Linked DNA regions of Homo sapiens: regions 2, 3 and 4 are each linked to region 1. The links come from fine-mapping of genetic effects on gene expression. A gene starts in region 1. Each other region holds a variant in brackets. All regions are shown on one strand. Distances are between the middles of the regions. Region 1 holds the start of TRIM38 (tripartite motif containing 38). Region 2 has its middle 27 kb from the start of SLC17A3. Region 3 has its middle 14 kb from the start of H1-2. Region 4 has its middle 9.0 kb from the start of SLC17A2.

Region 1 (6,334 bases):
CTGAGTGCTGACTCTTGCCCACAGTGGGAACACACAGTACAGAGCTTCTGAAGGAGACTCTAGTGACCTACTTCCCATTGTGAGTCTTTGGACTCCTATATCCCATAATCACAGGATCAAGCCTAACTTTACATATTAGAGATAATGCATTCCTCCTTGGGGATAGTTCAGGTTGATTTCTCCCTAGGCCTGCCTTTGTCAACATATTCCTGAAGTCTCATCTGCACCCCATCTCTGCTTCTAATATTGGCCACTCTGTGCATGAACCAGCCCCTCCTTCCTGCAATGGGAAACAGGTGTGAGATGGGACAGCTGTCACAATCCGTTTTGCTTTTGTCTTGCTGTTATTATTGGTAATGGTAGTTTGTTTCCTTTTTAGCATTCACTAGCTTCCTTTTCCTGATCCTTTGATAGTGTTACCAGAAAGGGGGTCCCAACCCAGACCCTAAGAGAAGGTTCTTAGATCTCGTGTGAGAAAGAATTTGGGGCAAGTCTACACAGTAAAGTGAAAGCAAGAAAGTAAAGGAATAAAAGAACGGCTACTCTACAGGCAGAGCATCAGCTTCTGGACTAAGGATACTGATATGGTTTGGCTGTGTCCCCACCTAACTCTCATCTTAAATTCCCACATATTGTGGGAGGGACCTGGTGGGAGGTAATTGAATCATGGGGGCAGGTCTTTCCCTGAGTAATTTATACTGCTGTTCTCATGATAGTCAATAAGTTTCATGAGACCTGATGGTTTTATAGAAAGGAATTTCCCTGCACAAGCTCTTTGCCTGCTGCCATCCATGTAAGACCTGACTTGCTCCTCCTTGCCTTCTGCTGTGGTTGTGAGGTCTCCCCAGACACGTGGGACTGTAAGAGCATGAAACATTTTTTCCTGGTATAAATTACTCAGTCTCAGGTATGTCTGGATCAGCAGTGTGAAAATGGACTAATACAGATACTTACAGTTATTTCTTGATTATGTACTAAACAAGGAGTGGATTATTCATATGTTTTCTGGGAAAGATGTGGGCAATTCCCAGAACCAAGCGTTCCTCCCCTTTTTAGACTATATAGGGTAGCTTCCTGACATCGCCATGGTATTTATAAACCACTATGGAGCTGGTGGGAATGCCTTCTAACTTGCTAACACATTATAATTCGTGTATAATGAGCAATGAGAATGACTAGAGGCCACTCTTGTTGCCATCTTGATTTTGGTGGGTTTTGGTCAGCTTCTTTACTGCAACCTGTTTTATCAGCAAGATCTTTATGACCTGTGTCTTGTGCCAACTGCCTATTTCATCCTGTGACTTACAATGCCTAACTTCCTGGGAATGCAGCCCAGTAGGTCTCAGCCTTATTTTACCTAGCCCCCATTCAAAATGGAGTCATTCTGGTTTGAACACCTCTGACAATAGGACAGATCTGGAATGAGCCATGCCTGGGTACAGAGTCACATCCACAACAATGAAAGTTGTAGATATCTGCAAGGACTCATCGTGGGACCAAGGATTCAGGGGCTCATTCTTTCTCCTCTCTCTGTGTGCTGGTTGCCTCAGGAGTAGAATGTCCCATGCTATGCATGGGGTCTGCAACCATCATGCCAGGGCATGATGAATCGTAGGTGGCAAAACAACAGAAGGCTCTGTGAGCACCCAGGAGGGTGCAGTGCTGAAGAGTCTTCTGCTTGGTATAGGAAGAAAGGAACGTGTTTCCCAATCTTGCCTTTATTTTGAGTAGTTGGACCAGAGGGATTGCAGCTGGGCCAAACTCCATGTTCCATTGGCTATCAGGGTCAGCAGGCAGGCCAGGGGCCCAGACAGGCCAGTGGCTCCCAGAATTCAAGTTTAATTTCTCCTCCCACCTGTGTCCTGAGCTCCCCTTACTGGTTCCCTTGGACCACTGCATCTACTTAAGCCAGCATTTATTATGTTGTTATCATAAATGCCTCTTACACCTGAGACTTATAAATGTGACAAGCTCTTATTGTGAGATAGTAATCCATCTTTTTTCCCCATGAAATAATAATTCTAACGGGTGGTGATAGTACTTTTCCTTTCATTTTGAAGTGGAGAAGCTGGAGCTAAGTCATTAAGGACTTGACCCTGGACCCCACAGCCTTTTCTCCACAAAGCACAAAGCAGAGTGATGGTCCCAGGGATCCCACACAGCTCTAAGCTGGGGGCACTCACTGCTGGGCCACTAGTGACTCCCATTTTCTATCCTGGCTGACCCTCGCTATTGAAGAAGATCTGAGTCCTGCAGAAGGACAGCAAGGAGAAAAACAAGACACAGAACGGGACAGAGAAGAATAGAAAGCTGACTCAGATGAATTTTGTGATGCCAATGAGTCCTACTGCTGTTACCACCCCTTTTTCCACCACACCCTTCAGAGCAGTTATAGAACCACAAGCAACCCATAAATAGCAAAAGAAGTAACATCAGCTAGGAAGGCTTAAGGACTCCCAAGGGAGTTGGTGGCAAAAGTAGAAAGATCTCAAATCAGAGTCTGTGAACTGAACCTCTGCAGGCTTCCTGTTTTTAGATACTCTGTGTTGGGGTCACATGATAGTTTACAGGGTTATTAATTGGTTCCTTCTTTTTATTGCTGTAAAAGAAGGATATTTTCTTCCTACGTTTCCCCCTCCTTTACCGGAGAGGCGGAGTGCAAATGATATGAACAACGTCACTAGTTTTCTCCTAAATCTTATGAGCCCCGCCTCCCACAGTAGTTTCACTTCTCAGTTTAATCCGGTCTGAGTTAACTTCCTGACCCAGGAAGTGGCAGCAACAGAGGGGACTAGCAGCGAATATGTAAGTGTCTGAGCAGTGAAGGTTACGGAAAAGGTCCAGGCTAAGGTTTTCTCAGTGGATATGTGAGTGTGTACTGATGGCAAGTGGGGTGGGGAATATATTTCGTGACAGCAGGGCCCCTCCAACTCTGAAAATGGTCAGGACTTTCTTTGTTTTACAGCTCTCACCTCTTTCCTGCTCTTTCTTTCACCAGACTTTACACCAAATCTCAGAAGATTCAGAACTTAGATGAGTGGGGCCCAGGACAGGAACCCTGGAGCCTTGGAAGGAGGGGAGCCCCATCTCCCCAGAAGAGCAGTGACCCCAGCAGAGAGGGGCCTGGTGTATCACTGGAGGAAATAGCCTGCCAAGGAATACACGTCTTCAGAAGAAATTCTGTGTGGCTTCAAGAGACTGATCAAATTGTGAGAGGAAAACAGCCTACCCGGTAATTGTAGTTAAATTACTGTTTTTTATTCTAGGCACTCTTCAAACTTCCTCCTGACTCTGCCCCTGTCCTAGAGGAGCTCCCAGGAGTAGGGGTGTGGGGGCGGGCGGGGGGGAGGGATCGGGGGTACAGGGAGAGCCCAGCTAGGTTCTCAGAAGAGGCAGGCTTTTTCGCTCCTGGTCACTCCTCTGTTGCCTATCCCTGGCCTCCCCCATCTTCTTTCTGCCTTCCCTACCTCCTTGGGTCTGCAAACTCTTTATGTTGCAATCACTCTGAACATGTCTCTTGAGATAGGTCCTGTCCTGGAGAAGAGATAGTAAAAGTAAACTCCCCAGTTCTGCAGGAGCTCTGATCCCATAGAAATAACTGCTCCTCAGGAGCAAACCCTCTGCTCTGCAGCCTTCTTTCCAATTCTTATTCCCTCAGTTTAGGGAGAGGGCACAAAAAGGATAAACCGGTTCTTCTGGTTGTTCTGGTTGCCTTGATTGCTTCCATTATCCTCCTGGTTGGGTCTCTAGCAAGACGTTATTAGCCAGGGAAGTCCCACTTAGGCACCCCTCTCTGCAGAAGAGGTATTCACTATTCTCCTTTCTCTTTCTTTTGCCTATTATACCTCTGCTCCTGAAAGCAAAAACAACAACAACAAAAACACAAACAAAAAACAACCGACCTTATTAACCAGTGTTGGTTGTTGTTCTTTGTGGGGGATGGGGGGGGTCGAGGTGGAGTCAAATTTTATTGTCATGATGGTGTAGGAGCCAAGGGAACACTTCCCCTTTGCCTTCTGAAGTTCACTGAAAAATCGACTCACAAAAGGCAGGCTAATTGGAGAAAAGGCATACAAATTTATTAACAAGTACATGGGCTAGAATCACAGAGTGATTACCCCCTCTGCCAATGGGGGTAGATACTTATATAGCCTTATTTATAAATACTTATGTATAAATACATAAATATAAATATGTATGCATATGTATGTATGTATAAATATGTATGTATACTGTATAAATATGTATGTATAACGTTTATACATGTATACATATTTATTTCAGAGGGGAAGGGTGATATCAGGAGAATATAGGTAATTCTTTGAGGGGCAGTAAATGATTACTAGGGAGAATAAATGAATATTTGGGAGGATGAATGAATGGAGGAACAGAGTTTAACTTGTAAATGGTTCTCTTTGGAAAATGAATGAGCCTGAGAGACAGACATTATTTTGTGAAAGTGTCTGATTAGGTCTGGTTACATTCTTAGTCCTCTTTTCTTCAGTACAAAATGAGATAATAGGGGTTGGAAGGAAAAACAATTGTTCTTCTTGTCTAGTGTGACTGGTCTTTATGTAGATAGGGGAAAAGTCTCTTCCAGCATCTGCTGATCTCTAAGGGCCTTTAATTCAAAATACTCATTATACCAGGGAGTCATATATTGGGGTGAAGCTCCCCATACTCCTTCAATGGAATCTGTCACAGATCACCCAATTGCATAAGTGTTACTACTAATTACAAAGAGTAATTCTGGTACCAATTATTCTTTTTTTTTTTTTTAAGACAGATTCTCGCTCTTTCACCCAGGCTGGAGTGCAGTGGTGTAATCTGGGCTCACTGCAACCTCCCCCTCCGGAGCTCAAGTCATTCTCCTTCCTCAGCCTCCTGAGCAGCTGGGATTACAGGTGTGCACCACCACATCTAGCTAACTTTTTGTATTTTTAGTAGAGATGAGGTTTTGCCATGTTGGTCAGGCTGGTCTCAAACTCCTGACCTCAGGTGATCTGCCCGCCTCGGCTTCCCAAAGTGCTAGGATTACAGGCGTGAGCCACCGTGCTGGCCTGGTAACAATTATTCTTGAAGTTAACTAGAATAGGAAAGAGTTTCACACTCCCTGAGTTCTCTCTTTTACAGCTTTTGTGAGGAAGCCTGCATTGCTTCTCCCAGCACTTGGTCCAAGGTAACTTTCTGTGATAACAGAATGTTGTATATTGAGGCTGTTATGTAGCCACTAGTCACATGCAACTATTAAGCAATCAAAATGTGGCAACTGGAACAGAAAAACTGAATTTTTTCATTTTAATTTTTATTAAGTTAAATTTAAATTCCTACTCATGATAGTGGCTACTGTATTAGCTATACAGCTAGATGTTTGTGTATCCTCTAAATTCCAATGCATTTCTTCTTTCTGGAGAGAAGACTTTAGCTGGACATGGTGGCACATACCTGTAGTCCCAGCCACTCTGCCAGGGTGAGGCAGGAGGATTGCTTAAACCCAGGAGGTCGAGGCTGCAGTGAGCTGTGGTCATGCCACTGCCCTCCACTACAGCCTGGGCAAGAGAGCGAGAACTTGTCTTATAAGAAAAGAAAAAGAGGCTGGGCACGGTGGCTCATGCCTGTAATCCTGGCACTTTGGGAGGCTGAGGCGGGTGGATCACAAGGTCAAGAGATCGAGCCAACCAACATGGTGAAACCCCATCTCTACTAAAAATACAAAAATTAGCTGGGCGTAGTGGTGCACACCTGTAGACCCAGCTACTACTCGGGAGGCTGAGGCAGGAGAATCGCTTGAACCCGGGAGGCGGAGGTGCAGTGAGCCGAGATAGCGTCACTGCACTCCAGCCTGGGTGACAGAGTGAGACTCCGTCTCATTAAAAAAAAAAAAAAAAGTTAGAAGACTGAGAAAAGAAAAATAATGAAATAATTTAGAGCAGTCTGAGCTATGTGAGGTATGCAAAATTTATCAGGACAAGTGAGGCAGGAGTATAGGTCTTCAGTTAAGACCCCATGTTTAAAAGCATTTTGTTCCTGACTGGCTGCCTCATCTATTACCTACATATTCCCGAGATTTGTAATACAAAGAACAATGTATAGCCAGTCAAAAGCTTATGCTATTTTAATGTAAATTCTTGGCAAACAACTTTAAAACTGCTTTAAAACTGCTTTTTTTCCTCTAAACAACCACTTGTAACTGCTTGCTAATGAGGGCAACTTGAAACTCTGCACTTGGGTTGCAGTTCTCAAACGTGGCCCAAACAACCTCAGCCTCAACTTCTTCCTTTTAGGTCCTCTTTTCTTCAATACAAAATGAGATAATAGGGGTTGGAAGGAAAAC
Region 2 (6,334 bases), 62 kb before region 1:
GCTGGGATTACAGGTGTGAGCCACTGCGCCCAGCCGGGGTTCATCCTTAATACATACATTAGAGATATAGATTCTGTTTTTATCTAAAAAGTCTTTATAAGGCCGGGCGCGGGGTCACGCCTGTAATCCCAGCACTTTGGGAGGCCGAGGCGGGCGGATCACGAGGTCAGGAGATCGAGACCATCCCGGCTAAAACGGTGAAACCCCGTCTCTACTAAAAATACAAAAAATTAGCCGGGCGTAGGTGGCGGGCGCCTGTAGTCCCAGCTACTTGGGAGGCTGAGGCAGGAGAATGGCGTGACCCGGGAGCGGAGCTGCAGTGAGCCGAGATCCCGCCACTGCACTCCAGCCTGGGCGACAGAGCAAGACTCCGTCTCAAAAAAAAAAAAAAAAAAAAAAAAAAAAAGTCTTTATAAAAATCTGATTGAATGGTTGAATGCTGTGCTAAAATCTGCATAATATCTTACAACACTTCTGTGAATCACGAGACAGTTTTGAATGCTAAATGTCAGTTAACAGATCTAAAGGGACCAACATCTGCTTTCCCAAATTATATGAAAGAAGATCCTGATCCCTCATCAGGTGAAACTCACATCAGACAACAGTGTCTGCATTTCTCCAAAACCCGCCTCAGCCCCATGGCCACTTTCCAGGGTTATCCTGCCTACCAAGCACTCTCTTTCCTCAGAAAAACTTGGGGGAAAATGTAGAATAATAATTTTTTGAAGTTCTGACCAACTTCTTGAATCACTCAGCATGTTTTTGACTGCAGGTACAGAAAACGCTGACTCAACAAATTTAAACACTATATAAATTTCTTATCTCCCCAAACAGGACATCAAAGGCAGAAAGGTTCCAGAGCAGGGTGATCAGAGCTCTGGCTCCACTGCCCTCAGTCTTCTTGCCTCTGCTCTCCTTCACAGCAGGCTTTACCCCCCATGCTGGTCACAGTTTCAAGTGTCCATGCAGACACAAGTTAAAGGCAGGAAGAAACAGTGCGTTTCTCTTGGAGATCAAGGAATGCCTTTCCAGAAAACTCCCCCTTATGTCTCATTTGCCAAAACTTGGCCTAGTCTCAGGTGCTGCCTGAGCTAATCAGCTACAGAAGAAGGGACCACATGACTGGTGTGGACCAGTCAGAATTCACCACATGAAGCTAGTAATGTGGCTCACACTTCCCAGGGGGATATGGCCAGGTAGCAGACAGTGGATCGCTGAACAGAATACTGATAGATTTCAGCACCAAGGTTAGAATGGCTACCACACCTAATCCCACCCTATCCCCGTTTCCTTCTTTAATTTTTTCCATAGCACTTATCAGTAGCTGACAAACTGTATATGTTTTTACTTTTTTATTGTCTGTAGCTCCCAAGTAGAATACAAACATCTGAAACTCACTGTATCCATCCTGAGTAATGTTCTTTTCAGCTCAGTCACAATCATTTTTTGATAGCCTATCCTATAAGCTTAACTTATAGTGTTAATCAGTATTAATACATCTTAGTGGGAAAGAAGGAAAAAATAAACGATCACACACACACACACACACACACACACACATACATTTACGTAACAGAGCAAGTGTGAAAATACCTAAAGGCTTTATAGCTCCTTTTGTCAATGGATACATGACAGCATTTTTGGCATTCTTTACTACTCTTATTCTATGCTCCATTTGTCTTCAGTCAGCACCTCAGCTGCCCTTATGTTTTACTTGGTAAGGCAAATTCCTAAATGAGCCTGGTAATTAGTCATCCAGCTTATAGGAAGGTACTATAGTTTTTCATTAACTTTTTCACTGGGCTTGAGAGTAGTAAGGACTCCCAGAGAATTCCTTGTGTTCCAAAAGTACTTCTCCTTGACATCTTGGTATAGGATTAATAACTGTTTACCTTTGATAATCAGGAAGAATGACTCCAGCTAGTACAGTTACGTGATGCCTATACATTCCTTTTTTTCTGGGAAAAATGTAATGTGAAATTAAGTGCAAAAACCATGCCTTGTTTATGTATGTATCAAACACTTCTAGAGCTTTCCCAATACAGTTCTCTTCTCAGCAAACAAGAGGACTATACCCTCATCCCCACCCCTGCACTTAGGTGTAGCCAATGTGTTGTAACTTAAAGAGGAGAGGGCACTGGATGAAGGGAAATCTGTCTAACAAGCTTCTTTATTTCACCTAGTGGAAAAAAGCCTTAATCTGCAGTGGGGCAGTTTTCAAGGACATAGACTGAATTGGCTCATGCATTTATGGAAGATGAGGAGTCCCATGATCTGTAATCTGCAAGCTGGAGACCCAGGAAAGCTGGTGGTATGATTCAGTCTGAATCTGAAGGCCTGAGAACCAGAGGAACTGATGATGTAAATCCCAGTTCAAGAGCAGGAGACCAGATGAGATGTCCCAGCTCAAGCAGTGAGGCAGAAAAAAAGGCCCAAATTCCCCCTTCCTCTGCCTTTTCTTCTATTCAGACCCTGAATATCAGGTGGCATAATGCCATCCACACTGGGAAAGACAGTTTACTTTACTAGGATCACCTATTCAAAGGCTAATCTCATCCAGAAACACGCTCACAAACACAGCCAGAAATAATGTTTAACCAGATAGCTGGTTATCCCCTGACTCAGTCAAGTTGACACAAAAAATGAACTATTTCAAAGCTTACTGTAATCAACAGTTTTGTCAAAAAGATAGACACAAATCAGTGGAATGAGATAAACAGTCTAGAAATAAACCAACAAAAATATTGCCAACTAAGGCAAAGGTAATCAATGGAAAAAAGATAGTCTTAGCAACAAATAGTACTGGAACACCACAATGTGTTAATAAAGTGAAACTGGAGACATCTCTCACACCTTATACAAAAGTAACTAAAAATAAATCAAAGGACTAGATGTAATGTATCAAACATTACATCTTTTAGAATGTATCAAACATTACAAGCTTTTAGAATAAAATATAGAAGAAAATTTACATGATCTAAGATTTGGCCCCA[A/G]TGAAGTTTTAGCTATAATAACAAAAGTATTAGTCATGGAAGAAAACAAAATTGATAAGTTCAGGTGGGCTAAATTAAGGGAAAAAAATCACTTTGCAGTAGAGAAACCTGAAACATTACCTAAACCACATGATGAAGGTTAATATCAGTGATGTCATGTGGATATCATGTTCTCCCTAAAATGATGTGACAAGAAGGGCCCTTTGCCCTTGTGGTATTATTTCAAAAAATCTATAACTCCGGTGTAATTATGAAAAAAAAGCAAATGATCTTCAGGACTGTTAAGGTCATGAAAAGCAAGAAAAGACTGAGACATTGTCACAGACAAAAAAAGACTAGGGAGATATGACAAGAAAATGCAGTGTGGTATTCCAGATTGGACCTTGGAACAGAAAGAAAACATTAGTGGAAACAGTGGTGAAATCCACATAAAGTCTAGGGTTTGGTTAATAGAGTTTCATGTATCAATGTGAGTTGCTTATATTTGACAAATGTATCATAATAATGTAAAATCCTAACAATGGGGGAAAGCTAGGTGAAAGATATATGGGAACTCTCCTGTACTGTCTTTGTACTATCTTTGCAACTTTCCTGAAAATCCAAATTATTCTAAAACAGAAAAGTTCATGCTATTAGAAGTGAGGATAGAGGTTACCTTGAAGAAGCTGAGGTCTAGAAGAGACCATGAAGGGTCTAATTAGCTAACACACGTTGAGTATCCCTTATGCTTAGAACCAGAAGTATTTCAGATTTTTTCAGATTTGGAATGTTTGCATTATACTGAGTATCTCAAATCCAAAAATCCAAAATCTGAAATATTCCATGAGCACTCCTTTGAGAATCATGTTAGCATTCAAAAAGTTGCCGATTTTGGAGCATTTTGAATTTCCAATTTTTAGATTAGGAATACTCAACCTGAGTAGAGGCTGCCTGCTAATTACCTGGGAGCTAATTACATGGATATGTCATTTTGAGAAAGTTTAGCTTGCTGATATGGATGATTTTCTGGATAAAAATTATACTTTGATAACAATTCTTTTAAAGGAGACAATAGTTATTAACTTTTAAGTACTTTTTAGCTCTACAATTCAGAATTCTTTAGTGCTAAATATTACATATTTTGAAACAAAAGTTTTGTTTATATTTATTTATTTGTTTCCCCCCCCCTTTTTTTTTTTTTGAGACAAGTTCTCACCTTATTGCCCATGCTATAGTGCAGTGGGTGATTATAGCTCACTGCAGCCTCAAACTCCTGGACTCAAAGGATCCTCCTGCCTCAACCTCCCAAGTAGCTAGGAGTACAAGCATGCACCACCATATCCAGCTAATTTTTGTTTATTTCTACAGAGGCAGGGTCTCACTATGTTGCCCAGGCTGATCTCAAATTCCTGGCCTCAAGTATCCTCCCACCTCTGCTTCCCAAAGCGCTGGGATTACAGGTGTAAGTCATTGCACCCAGCCAAAAGTTTTATTTTAAACTTATTATTATGAGCATGTAACAGATTTATGTGGTTTGAAATTCAAACCTACAAAAGAAAATAATAAAAAGCTAACAGATAGACAAACAAAAACAAAAGCAAAACCCCACTTGGCCATGCTCTCTAGTTCCTCATTTCTCTCTTGGAAGAAACCAGAGCAATGTTCCCTGTGTATCCTTCCAGAGATAATTTTTTAAAATACTTTTTTCTTTTTAACAGAAGAGATGGTAGACTACTTCTTTTAAATTAAATTAATATACATTTACTTGTTTCTTTTTATTGCTATAGAAAATGAAGTTGGGGAAACAGGAAAAATGACCTAGTATTATCATACTAACATACCAAAATTTTTCAGTTATATGTATTTCCTGTTTCAGTTTTTACCCCACCTGTTTTTTATTTGGTTTGAAATCATAGTACAGATAAAAACTTGAGGCAGGTATTTTAGACTTGTTTTTCTTTTGTAACATAAAACTTTGAGAGCACCAGGAAATCTGGAAATATTCATTTAGTTATTCATAATTCAAAATATTGTTATATCCACTTTGTGTCAGACTATTTGTTAAGAACTAAACTAAAAGAAAAAGATGGGGCTGGACATGGTGGCTCACACCTGTAATCCCAGCACTTTGGGAGGCTGAGGCGGGTGGATCACCTGAGTTTGGGAGTTCGAGGAAAGCCTTGCCAACACGGTGAAACCCTGTCTCTACTAAAAATACAAAAATTAGCCAGGTGTGGTGACACACGTCTGTAATCCCAGCTACTCAGGAGGCTGAGGCAGGAGAATCACTTGAACCCAGGAGGTGGAGGTTGCTGTGAGCCGAGATCATGCCACTGCACTCCAGCCTGGGCAGCAAAGCAAGATTCCATCTCAAAAAAAAAGATGATAACACCCTCTGGGAGATTACATTCAGATAGAACAAATAAAGGTGTAGAACCTAAGATGTGACAAGGACACTGTTGGGTGACTGATTCTTCCTGGGAACATTTATAAAGGCTTCCTAGGGGAGGGCGTGTTTGTGTAAGAGCTTTCCAGGTCAGAAAGTATGTACAGTGGAAAATGTATATGAAAAGACCGTGTTTGGGAATCAGGGATTATATATTGTGATTAGAGGAAAGAGTCCTAGGGTTTGATACCTACAAAGAATTAGAGTTTCTAGGTGCTTCTGGACATGTGGATTGATGACAGCAATACTAAAAATACAAAAATTAGTGGGGCATAGTGGTGAGCGCCTGTAGTCCCAGCTACTTGGGAGGCTGAGGCAGGAGAATAGCTTGAACCCGGGAGGCGGAGGTTGCAGTGAGCCGAGATTGTGCCACTGCACTCCAGCCTGGGTGACAGAACGAGACTCCGTCTCAAAAAAAAAAAAAGAAAAAAAGCAGGAGTTAGCAGAAAACCAACAAGACATGGGAAGGAGAGAGAGAGCTGCAACACCCAAGAGAAAAAATAGCAATGCTGAAATCAAAGTATAATGAAGGAGAGAGGATGCTGGAAGCTATGAAATTCTTTCTGTGAGGCAATGGGGCAATGACCCTAGAACTGCTGAGTTAGCAGCAGTGACAGACTCAGTGCCAAATCATATATTAGAAAAAAAAATCAGATAGAGGTAAAGTCCAGATCCAAAGAAGAGGGTTTTTAGCAGTAAAGCAGACAGTAGAACCCACCCAGCTTTCTAGGGTGCAGGGGGCCTCCCTTTCAGGCATCATGAACAGTGGGGGACCATAACTAGGCATGATGGCTTCAGATACAGGGCTTGTTCATCTCTTGTTGTGGTCAGGCACTGCCTAATGAGAGCAACCCCTTCCAAATGCTACTGCTGTGTTTAACTAGGGCTCTTGATAATCTGACCAGCTTCTGTCTTA
Region 3 (6,334 bases), 110 kb after region 1:
CATTCCTTCCTTCTGGATCCTCTCTGGAATGCGGTCTGGTGATCTATGATCAAATAAGGTAGTTCAGATAATTTCTTTATGGCCAGTTTTTACACAGAAAAACAGAGGGAAAGTTAGAGTAATATTTTTAGGTTTTATGGCTGGGCTCTGGGGAAAAGGTGTTTTGATTTCTATGACCTAACTTGAGGAAGAGGAATTCTCATTTCTATGGCTAGACTCCGGGGAGAATGGGACTCAGAGACAGGAGGGCAGGAGAAGATCAGAGAAAAACTTTGGCTTCTGCGGTCTTTATTTTGGGGTATTGTTTTCTGAGTTCCAACAAACCCCAAGGACCTACAAAGACTGCATACTTTTTTTTTCCTTTTTATTAATTGTGAGATAACCACAGCATAGGCAATTTGTTTTTTGTTTTTGTTTTTGAGACAGGATTTTGCATTGTTGCCCAGGCTGGAGTGCAGTGGCATAATCATAGCTCACTGCGTCCCCAAACTTCTAGGCTCAAGAGATCCTCCCAGCTTAGCCACAACTGAGAGGTGCTACTAGCATTTAGTGAGTAGAGAACAGATATGACTAGAGGTTCATTAAGTGTTTTGAGCCTTTACAGCTTCAAAATTGTCTTTGCTAACCCCTAACTTTTGGATGCTACAGAGGGCCCCTGGAGTATCCAAAGGAGAGGTAAACAGGATCATTTGACACGTTTAGTTATATAGGATTGTTGAAATAAGGTGATATTTGATCTTCAGGTCATATTTCAGTGAAAACTGTGAATGTGTGTTCCAAAATTATAGGGGATTTCTAGAGTTCTGATATCTGAGTTTGTGTCATCAGTTATAATTAGAGTTATTGTGTTAGGCTATTGTAAATCACAGAGGTGACTAAATTTCTTTGTCAATTGTGTTTTTGACTGTGACTACCCTAGGACATTTTAACATTCATAGACAAATGTTGTCTTGTTTTGAAACTCTGCAAAGAATGGATTATAACCCTCAATTGCAGGTTTCTGATAACTTTGAAGATTGTGAACAGGAGTTAACTAGGTGAGCTGAACTATTGGAAAACTAATCTTCTTGACTCTTGCCTCTGTACCTAATTCTTCCTGGATGCAGGACAAGAACTCAGGCAAAGGTGCTGCAGCATAAAGTCTGGCCAGAGAAACTGACACTCCAGAGGTTTTGTAACAATATTTTATGTTAAATAATTTATACGTATTTCCTATTCTAAGCATTTCAAGTGATTGTAAAAACTCAACTCATGAAAACTTATAGCTGAGATGATGTATCCTGTGATTTTTAACTCAACTTTATACCAATCTAAGTTGATTAGCATTCTTACAAAGTTTAAGAAGTTAAGATTTGCCATATTAAGTATTGTCTTAAGATTTTTAAGAATTGAAAAATTTGGAGCAGTTTTGTTCATTAGTCAATTGGATACTTTAAAAGTCCAGTATGTCAGATTTAAAAATTGCAATTTATAAGTTTTCTTCTTAAAGTTCGTCAAATTGCAAAAGCCTTGCCAAAAATGAATGTTAAAAATTTGGTAGATTATTTGTTCTATGGGTTCTATGGGAAAAAATTGGTAGATTAATAAATGCCAATAGTAAGCATTGTAAATTGAATTTAAAAGTTTAAGGAAGAGCTATTAATTTAATTTTGTCATAATAATGAATTGAATGTTGTTTTTTAAGTACCATAGTACTTGCTGAATGATCTTTCTGTATGGAAAAGGACATAAAAATGCACATTGGTAACATCAACTCTATTTCAGCGGCGGGATTGTGGGGTGAGCTTATCTCCAGGTTTGGGAAGGATGTGTTGTATCATCTGCCTCTTGTGTGTGTACTACCTGCCATTGCTGCTTGGCCACCAGCATCCATCTTGGTGAGTCCTGTCTCCCTCTAAAAGACTCGAGCTGTGCTGTTCAATCCAGTAGCCCCTAGCTACATGTAGCTATTGTAATGAATTAAAATTAAGTAAAATTAAACATTCTGCTCCTCAGACACCAGTCACATTTCAAGTGCACAATAGTCACAAGTGGCCAGTAGCTAGTTTTGAACAGTGTGGAAAGATTTCTGTCATCACAGAGCATTCTATTATCACGTTGTAAAGCATTCTCTAGCTCTTGCAAACTTGTCAGATCCCTTAAAAGTTCTTAAAAATAATTCATCATTCGAATTTTGCTCAGACTAATTTTTAGGGAAGTCTTTTTCTGGAGGCGTGGACTTGTGATCTCCATAATTCATCCCTTCTACTATGTTAGTTACCTTGAGCTGCTGTAATAAAATACTATAGACTTAGTCGCTAAAAAAAAAATAACTTTCTCACAGTTCTGGAAGCTCAGAAGTCCAAGATCCAGGTGCTGGCCAATTCAGTTTCTAGGTGAACGCTCTCTTCCTGACTTGTTGGTGGCAGCAGCATTCTCACTATGTGCTCATGTGGTGTCCTTTTTGTGCTTGTAGGGCTTAGGCAGTGGAGAGAAGGAGGAGAGAAAAAGAGGTCTCACTGTTTTCTCCTTTTCCCGAGACAGGTTCTCGTGTAGCCCAGGCTGGACAGCAATGGCTCACTGCAGCCTCCTCCTGGGCTCAAGCAATCCTCCCACCTCAGCCTCCAGAGTAGCTGGAGCCTCAGATGTGTACCACCACACCCAGTTCATTTTTTAAATTTTTAGAAGTTGGGGGTCTCACTATTTTGTCCAAGCTGGTCTTGAACTCCTGGGCTAAAGCGAGCCTCCTGCTTCAGCCTCTCATAGTGTTGGAATTACAGGCATCAGCTGCAGCACCTGGCTCTATTGTCTTTTTTTTTTTTTTTTTTGAGATGGAGTCTCTATCACCCAGGCTAGAGTACAGTGGTGTGATCTCACTGCAACTTCCACCTCCTGGTTTCAAGGGATTCTCCTGCCTCAGCCTCCCA[G/A]GTAGCTGGGAGTACAAGCGTGCACCACCACACCTGGCCAATTTTTGTATTTTTAGTAGACATGGGGTTTTACCATGTTGGCCAGGCTGGTCTCAAACTCCCAACCTCAGGTGATCCATCCACCTCAGCCTCCCAAAGTGCTGGGATTACAGGCATGAGCCACTGCACCTGGCCTGTTGTCTCTTTTAATAAGGGCATGAATTTCATCATGAGAGACACATCCTGATGAGTTTGTCTAAATATAATGACTTCCCAAACGCCCCAGCTCCAAGTACCATCACACTGGGGGTTAGGGTTTCAACATATGAATTTTGCGACGGGGAGTCAATTCAGTCCATAGTACCTACTGTATTAGTTTTCTGGGGCTGCAGTAACAAAGTACCTCAAACTCGTTGGCTTAACAACAGATATTTATCGTCACACAGTCCTGGAAGCTGGAAGTCTGAAATCAAAGTATCATCAGGTTTGATTCCTTCTGAAGGCAATGAGGGATAATCTGTTCCAGGTTTCTCTCCCAGCTTCTGGTATCCCCAGACTCATTGCTTGACTTGAATGGTGATTCTCCCTGTGTCTACTCACCACATTTTCTCTCTATAGGTGTCAGTCTCTGTGTATGACATTTCTCCTTTTTATAAGGACACCCTTTATGTTGGGTTAGAGCCCACTCTTATCTTAACTGATGAAGTGCAAAGACCCTATTTCCAAATAAGGCCACATTCACAGGTCCTGATACAGGAGGGGGAAAGTGCTGGGAAGGGAAGGGCATGGTCCCTTTAAATGATATGGAAGTGGGGAAGGGAAGGGCGTGGTCCCCGGCTAGGGCTCCACCCCCAGGCCTGTGCCCAGGGACCACGGTGAGGACAGGCATTTTTGTTTTCCTGCCCAAATGTTGCATTTCCCAAGACCTCCCCTGGCCTGCCACAAGACACGAATAGCTGGACGTCCAGGGGAGCACACTGGCAGAAGAGCACACAACAAACGTTTGCCTGGCAAAATGAGGCGGAATTTGACTGGGGTGGTTGGAGGAGAGCCTGGGCCACTGAGTGGCTGACTCCAAGGGAAAACTTTCCCACTCCATCCACTTTTGGCTTTGCCCAACTGCTGAGAGCTACCTCCACTTAATAAAACCTTGCACTCTTTCTCTAAGCCCAGGTGTGGTCTGATTTATTCCGGTACACCAAGGCAAGAACCTGGGATACAGAAAGCCTTCTTCTGTCCTTGGGACAAGGTAGACGGTCTAATTGAGTTGGTTAACACCAGCTGCCTATAAATGGCAAAACTAAAAGAGCACCCTGTAACACACACCCACTGTGGCTTCAGGAGCTGTAAACATTCAACCCTAGACACTGTGGTGGGGTCATGGGGTTGGAGACCCACAACCTGCCCGTCTTAATGTTCCCCTAGAGGTTTGAGCAGCCAGGCACTGAAGAAATTAGCCACACTCCTATCACATGCCATGCGAGCGGGACAAGGGAACTTTTCCCATTTCAGTACTGGTGGTTAGGACTTCAACAACTTTATTTTTGTGGGAATGCATACTTCAACCCATATTATGAGGGTTCCTAGAATGTGGACTGCTGAGGCTGAAGCACTACCTAAGTGCCTGAGGCCAGCCTGCAGTTGGTTTCTGGCTCTCATGAGTTAGCTAACATCTCGGGAGAGAGGAAGACAGGCCTAGGAAGAGCAGAGCCCACGATTCATTCTTCATTCCACCTCTGCTCTTCAGAATCTCCTTCAGTCTATGTGATGAGCCATCAGACCTCTTGGTGGGAAATGGTGCTGCCGTGCCTAGCCCTTTTCGATTGTGCTACCATGCTGAGATTACTGAGGGACCAGGAAGGCCTGGACTCAGACCATATAGGGTGCCACCCTAGTGGGAATGGAACCTGTCAGTGCTGGGTGAATGTGACCGTCCCATGAGGAGAAGACAGATACTCTTGCCAAGCTGAGCATGGAGACCTGATGGGACACTCATTATCATGAGGGGATGAAGATCCAGGCTTCCAAAGTTGGTACCACAGGGTGGCTATGGCATGAACAGGGGGTTAGGATGAAGGACCCAGAATCTAACATGCTGGAGAGGTAGGGAAAGGAGTCAGAAATTCAGTCTTGTTGAACCCTAAATATTGCATCTCTCTCTCTCTTTATTTTTTTTTTCTGGAGATGGGGGTCTGGCTCTATCATCCAGGCTGGGGTGTAGTGGCATGATCTCTGCTCACTGCAGTCTCCGCCTTCTGGGTTCAAGAGATCCTCCCACCTCAGCTTCCTGAGTAGCTGGGACTACAGGTGCGCGCCACCACTCCCAGCTCATTTTTGTACGTTTTTGTAGAGACACGGTCTCACCATGTTGTCCAGACTGGTCTCGATCTCCTGAGCTTAAGCGATCTGTCGCCTCGGCCTCCCAAGAAGGATTGGGATTACAGGGCCTGAGCCACTGTGACCAGCCAACATTGCATCTAATTTTAGGGTATTCATCTGACTTTCCTGAACACTGCTTCTTGGGTGCTCATTTTAGCAGGCATTTGGCCATAGGTAGATTTAAAGTTTTGGTGGGTTTTGTTGTTGTTGTTGAGACAAAGTGTCACTCTGTTGCCCAGGCTGGAGTGCAGTGGCAAGATCTCAGCTAACTTCAACCTCCATCACTGTGCTTCAAGTGAGTCTCCTGCCTCAGGCTCCCGAGTAGCTGGGATGACAGGTGTGTGCCACCATGCCCTGCTAATTTTTTATATTTTTAGTAGAGATGGGGTTTCGCCATGTTGGCCAGGCTGGTCTGGAACTTCTGACCTCAGATGATCTGCCCGCCTCAGCCTCCCAAAGTGCTGGGATTACAGGTGTGAGCCACAACCCCTGGCCAACGTTTTCTGAAAAAGCTATTCTAATCAGGTAGGAAAGATGGGAAGCGGGGTGGCGGGGTGTACTTTTTTCTGCATATTCAGTTGCAGGGTCCCAGACCAGGGAACAATCTTCAATCTCTTACCTTCAATCTCCCTTCATGGAAGTCAGTGCTCAGCCTGGCCATTTACTGTGTGCAGTAGGTGTGATGTAGAAAGCCTCTAAACCTCCATGCCTACCTGCCAGGAACAATATACACAAAGGTGTGTGTGTGTGTGTGTGTGTGTGTGTATCTTACGGATTCTTCCACGTAACTATGTGGACATCTAATCCATTGCTTCCAACTCTATATTGTGCAGTGACTTCATTTTACCTCCACCTCTCTCAGTGAAGGATATCAGTCAGCCCACACTTTCCTGTCACCTTTATGGGATATGTTTGAGATGATATTTGGAAAATATTCCCAGGGAGTGGGCACTCCCATCAGCAGTGTATGAGGATTCCTGAGTCTCCATATCCACACCAATACTGAGCATTATTCAGCTCTCTAATTTGTTAATGCTCTCTTTTAAATGCAAAAGGACACATCACTTTAC
Region 4 (6,334 bases), 24 kb before region 1:
TCGGCTAGTTATGTCTGACGGATAGAAGTGAGGACACTCCTAATTGAAAAGTAAGTGCTACTAAGAAACTCAACGTGGGGGTCATAGAATGAAGCCAGACTTTTGTTCCCAAGCAGGAGACAGATGCAGATAAGAGGGAATGAAGATGAAGTAAGGGCTGAACCACAGAAGCTTCGCATCATAAGTCATTGTATTTCTCTGAGTGAACATCATAGAACTTATTTACTATCTGGTCACAAAATGCCACTGACATGAAAAGAAATCGGGTTGAAATGGCTCTAGACCAAGATTCCCAAGACATCAAGAAATCACCAAAAGTTGCCTCAGGTTCACAAAAAAAGATATTCCAAGGGAGTTCTCCAAGTAAGTAAACACTCATTATTTCTATAAGGCTTAGGCCACAAGACCTTGGCTGAGACCCCTGTCTCTGTGATCTGGTCTGTACCACATTGGAAGGGCCATGACTGATTTCTACCTAGACATTTAAGGCTGAACGGAGGCTGAAGAACCTCTTGCTTGCTTTCCCATAGACTCACATCTGATAACAGCCCTCATCTTAGGCCCCAGAGGGCAAGAAGAGGTTAAGAAGGATCAACCAAAGGTAAAGTACACCAAGAAAAGAGCAGCTCTTTGGTTAGAATTTTAAGATAAAGAGAGACACATAAAAGCTACTGTTGAAAAATAACAGAAGGAACAACGTTTTATCTAATCAATAGATGGAACAAGACAATAGAGGACCATCTCAACAATAACCTAGAATACCATGGAAGACAGACATAAATCATCTGTATTTGTCCTGCTCAAGACTTGCCATATGCCAGGTATGGTGGCTTATACCTATAATCCCAGAACTTTTAGGCTAAGGCAGGAGAATTGCTTGAGCGCAGGAGTTCCAGACCAGCTTGTCTCTACAAAGTTCTCTGGGGGTTTTTTTTCGTTTGTTTGTTTTTTAGGCAGGTGTGATGGCACACACTTGTGGTCCCAGCTACTCAGGATGCTGAGGTGGGAGAACAGATTGATTCTGGGAGGTCAAGGCTGCAGTGAGCTATGATTGCTCCACTGCACTCCACCCTGGGTGACAGGAACTGCAGACAGCCTCTAGAAGTTGAATCAGCCTCTACCAAGAAGCTTCTACCGGTGCAAAGAACTGAATTTTTCAACAAACCTGAGGGAGCTTGGAAGTGGAAATTTCCACAATCAAGCCTCTGATGAGAATTCAGACTCAGCCAACACCTGGATTGCAGCCACATGAGGCTTGAAGCAGGGAACCCAGTTAAGCCATGTCAGAACTTCTATCCACAGACCTTAGGTAATAATAAATGTGTGTTGCTTTAAGCCACTAAGTTTTTGCTAATTTGTTTTGTAACAATTATATATAACTAGTACACATGAATAGTAGAATCTAATATCAGCCATTGACTTCAATGAAGGAAAAAACAGATGTGAAAAAGAATACATGAAATAGTACATGAAAGAATACCTGCACATGGCATACACTTGAATCCATGTATATGCCAGGCTTTCTTGTGTTGCACACCCAGACCAACCCTGTAGTTAAAGATAACACAGTAGAAAAACTGAAGAGTTACTGAGAGTAATTAAAATGTCTTAAGCAGGAGTGGGGCATGATTTTTATTTTTAGACCGTTTAGTCTGCTAGTTATATCTGATGGTTAGAAGTGAGCCTATCTCTGGTCCCATGTTCTTAGAGAGAGTACTTTTATCTCTTTATCCATCTAACATCTCTAATTTATGTAACATCCCAAGTCCTCATTAATCCTGTGTTATTGCTGTTGGAAGTCCATCTATCCCCTCAAGAACAGAGCCTGAAATTCCTCTTTGAAAAATTTCCATTCATCATAATCTCAAATTTCTCCAATGTCATTTTCCACCTAAATTTCATGTGTGACTTGAATCTCAAGACTATTCATCTGCCCCAGGTATCTGTTTGATGCCTGGATATGTCTGAATTATTATTATTGTTATTATTATTATTTTTTTTTTAAATGGAGTCTTGCTCTGTCACCCAGGCTGGAGTGCAGTGGTGCGATCTCAGCTCACTACAACCTCTGCCTCCTGAGTTCAAGTGATTGTCCTCCCTCAGCCTCCCCAGTAGCTGGGATTACAGGTGCCTGGCACCTCGCCCAGCTAATTTTTTTGTATTCTTAGTAGAGATGGGTTTTCACCATGTTGGCCAGGCTGGTTTTGAACTCCTGACCTCAAGTGATCCACCCACCTCAGTCTCCCAAAGTGCTGGGATTACAGGTATGAGCCGCCACACCCAACCTTAGACCTCATCCTACCCAGCTCACGTGTCTTTTAATCCTTTAGCTGAGGTTGTAGTTTTAACTTATTGCTGCTTGAACCTATTTCAATGCAAAAGTTCTAAAAGAACTCAGCCACCAAAATTCCCTTGATTTGCTGCACTGTACCAAATATTAGTCTTAATGAAATACAAGATTTGTTTCAGGATCTCAAGCCCAATATTTTCAACTGTAGGCTTCCCAGTATCCAAGGTTTA[C/T]GCAGGAGATTGGCAGTGGGTACATTCCCAGGGTCAGTGGTTTTTATCCAGGAAGGAACCTCAGAATCACCTGGGGAATTTTAGCAACATACACACCAGTGTTCTCAGGAGTGAGGCTCAGGTATGTGGATGGCAACAATACTTCCCTTATCAAAAAGCTGCCACCACACCAGACAAATGAAAACTGCTCTTTAATTATACAGCTTGGCCTTACCTAATGGTTCTCAATTTTGGATGGACATTCAAATCACAAGGGTAGTTGGTTTTTTTTGTTTTGTTTTGTTGAGACAGACTCTCACTCTGTCGCCCAGGTTGGAGTGCAGTGGCGCCATCTCGGCTCACTGCAACCTCCACCTCATGAACGTAGTTTTAAACAGCACTAGTGCCTAAACCAGACTCCAGAGATCATGATCCCTAATCCTATCCCTACCCTGCGGTACTCATTCTGAGATATGCCCTGGGTAATAAGAATTTTAGAAGGTACTCAGGTGATTCTAATGTTCAACCAGTCTGAGAACCATTCGCAGACTTCATATAGATACTTTATTCCAAACAGCTGAGCTGGACCATAGCTAGAAGAAGGAATAGAGATGAATGAGAGTTCATATTTTCCATAGAAAGCCGCTGCCCTCTTCTAAATGTGAATGGAAGTTCTGGAGACCCCTATCCTAAGGTAGACAGATGACAGATACACTGGAGAATGCTGAAGGAAGCAGATAGGAGTCTAGGCTTTAGACCACACCTTCCAAGACGTACTACTCATGCCTGATGAAGTATTACCAAACATACCCCTGGGCCAATAAACAAAGCAGGAGCAAATGTGTTTGTGTGTGTATAACTTTCTACACAAAATACAGAAAAAAGTGATTCAATGTTCAGCATAAATAAAATTTTGTGTTTTAGTATTGTTTTATTTCAAAGTACATCTTGGTGAGAATGCATTATTTTGAACTGGATAAAAGCCCCCCACTACTGAATCCCAGGTCTCTCTATGAAGCCTGAATAGAGGCACTGTAACTCTAATGGCCAAAGGGCTGGCCTGGAAATTCTCCCTTCAGCTGCAAAAAGAGAAAAAGAATAATCCAAGCAAACAAACAAAACAAAGAAATGAGCAAACCACTACAACACAAAACCCTTGGGATGAGATGAGTACTAGACTGGGAAAGTGATAGCTCTGGTATTCATGTGTGTGTGTGTGTGTGTGTGTGTGTGTGTGAGAGAGAGAGAGAGAGAGAGAGCACATGAGAGCACACACAAGACCCTATAGAGGAACCAAGTAGCTTATCTTCTTCCTTGGATTCCTCTATCTCATAGCCTAGAAGACATGGGGTGATCCTAGCCCCTGGTAGTGTAGGACAAGGTAGAGTGGGACTGTGGTTTTAAAATACTTTTTAGACCGGGTGTGGTGGCTCATCAACACTTTCGGAGGCGGAGGTGGGTGGATCACCTGAGGTCAGGAGTTTGAGACAAGCTTGACCAACATGCTGAAACCCCGTCTCTACTAAAAATATAAAAATTAGCTGGGCATGGTGGCAGGCACCTGTAATCTCAGCTACTCAGGAGTCTGAGGCAAGAGAATCGCTTAAACACAGGAGGCAGAGTTTGCAGTGAGCCAACATCATGCCATTGCACTCCAGCCTGGGTGACAAGGGTGAAACTCTGACTCAAAGTTAATTAGTTAATTAAAATAAAATACTTTTTTATTTGGGGCTGGGTGCAGTGGCTCATGCCTATAATTCTAGCACTTTGGGAGGCCAAAGTGGGAGGATCACTTGGGGGCAGGAGTTTGAGACTAGCCTGGGTGACATAGCAACATGCCATCTCTACAAAAATTTAAAAAATAAAAATTAGCTGAGTGCAGTGGTGCACACCTGAAGTACCAGCTACTCATGAGCCTGAGGTAGGGGGAATTACTGGAGCCCAGGAAGTTGAGGCTGCAGTGAGCAATGATTGGGCCACTGAGCTACAGCCTGGTGACAGAATAAGATGCTGTCTCTAAAAACAAAAAACAAACAAAAAAAACCCAAAAACCTTCTTATTTTAAAATGATTTCAAACATATAGAAAAATCAGAAAAACAGTACAAAGAACACTCATATACTTTTTACCTAGATTGTTAATATTATACATTTGCTTTTTCTCTACCTATCCATTTATTTATATGTCTTTATATCTCTTTATATATATATATACTTACTGAAACATTTGAAAGTTGCAGATAATCATCTTCCTATATTACTCAATACTTTATCTTTAAATTCAAATTCAAATTTTACCAGCTGTCCCAATCATGTCTCTGACAACACTTTTTCCCCTCAATCCAGGATCACAAATTGCATTTGGTTGCTATCTCTTTAGTCTCTATTAACCTGGAACAGTTTCCTGGCCTTTCTTTATCTTTCATGATATGAAATGACAATGAATTTTTAAAGGTTAGGTGTTTTGTAGATTAGTTCAGTTTTAAAACTTCACAACAAAGTGCCAAAGATGTCTTGGCAGCAGTGCTCAAAACAGGTTGGAGATGCATAGGAGCCACAGAGAAGGGTCTGGTTCAAAGGCCAGTGGTCGTCTCATTACAGCACTGCTCCATCAGGTCTAGGTCTGGAGACTTGGTAGCACGTCTATGGCCCCAAAGTGTGTAGAGAATGTTGAGAATTGCCTAGGGTGGCAGACTTAGAGGAAGAAAGGTTGGTATGAGGCCTGTCTAAAATTGAATTTGGCTATAGAGTTATGGAAGGGTTTTAGGCCATGTCTGGGTGGAATCAGATTCAGTCAGCAAGTAAGGGGTCTTTGGGAGGTGAGCTTAGGCTGTCTGGGCCCCTTCGAGGAGGGCAGATTTTATGGGGAAGGGCTCTCCTAGAAGAACCTAGTTTAGGATGAGCAAATCACGCAGGTTCATTCTCCACTTTACCCTAGCACTTCCTAGGCTCAGTGGTGGTTTTGAACTTTTCCCATCCCTGCAATTACTCCATAAAGGGAATGTGCAAGGAAGAGGGGAGGAAAGAGATGTGAGTTCTGCCAGAGGCTTCACTGTTTCATTCCCAGATTTATTTGAAACCAACCCTCCTCCTGTACTTCATGCTCTCCAAGCTCATGGTCCTGGAACTTCACATTTACATAATACGGAATTTTTTTTATTACCCTTGATCTTTATGCATGCAATCTTTCTGAACACCCTGGACCCCCTCCTTCTCTTGGTGACCTTTTCCTTCTCCAAAACATGGTTCACCAGTTATTACCTCTGCAGCAGTGGTCCTTCCAGGAGTTGCTTGCTGCTTTGTTCTTCTCTCAGCCTCAACACTTTTTCTTATCTTGTTACAGCATTTAGAATGTAATGTTTTGTTTTGTTTTTAAAACACATCTTGGCTTTCTGGAAACTTATATAGAAAATAATTTTTTTTCCCTCAATAGATATATGGCTAGGGTCCAGCCTAATGTCTGCCATAGAGAAGCCTAATGTCCAGCCTAATGTCAATAAATGTTTATTGTGGGCATAAAGGAATACATTTTAAAATAATGGAGTGTTTAGGTAAAATTAGGATTATTAGCTTGAGTCATTTAAAATCATCCACAAGAACCAGATCAAATGTACATGTCTTTAATACTGGTGAAAGAAGTAGTTACGCTGTCTTAAAGGCAAAACGATATGGACATAGCCACCAGAAATACAAGAGTGCCATCTCTTGGTAAACCTGTTAGCAGACAGAGAAGACACTGAGAAGCCATGTAAAATATACTTGATAATGTGTCTCTTATGTAGGTTATGTAAAATGTGGAAGAAAGATGGAAACAAAATTGAGAGACGTGGTTATGGC

Evidence for each region. PIP is the estimated chance that this variant, and not a neighbour inherited with it, causes the effect.
Region 2: its variant is fine-mapped to the expression of TRIM38 in lung (TOPMed, PIP above 0.99).
Region 3: its variant is fine-mapped to the expression of TRIM38 in whole blood (TOPMed, PIP above 0.99). The same link has a PIP of 0.9 or more in T cells and blood mononuclear cells.
Region 4: its variant is fine-mapped to the expression of TRIM38 in lung (TOPMed, PIP 0.98).

The regions. Positions count from the first base shown.
Region 1 is chr6:25,960,051-25,966,384 of GRCh38, forward strand. TRIM38 (tripartite motif containing 38) reads left to right here and starts at 2,752. Exons shown (of 8, transcript NM_006355.5): 1 at 2,752-2,805; 2 at 2,999-3,232; 3 at 6,285-6,334.
Region 2 is chr6:25,897,672-25,904,005 of GRCh38, forward strand. No RefSeq gene overlaps it. Among named protein-coding and RNA genes, the nearest start is that of SLC17A3, 27 kb to the left of the region's middle. RefSeq lists an enhancer at 445-1,034. The variant A/G (reference allele first, on the strand shown) is at 2,994.
Region 3 is chr6:26,067,569-26,073,902 of GRCh38, forward strand. No RefSeq gene overlaps it. Among named protein-coding and RNA genes, the nearest start is that of H1-2, 14 kb to the left of the region's middle. The variant G/A (reference allele first, on the strand shown) is at 2,907.
Region 4 is chr6:25,936,541-25,942,874 of GRCh38, forward strand. No RefSeq gene overlaps it. Among named protein-coding and RNA genes, the nearest start is that of SLC17A2, 9.0 kb to the left of the region's middle. The variant C/T (reference allele first, on the strand shown) is at 2,521.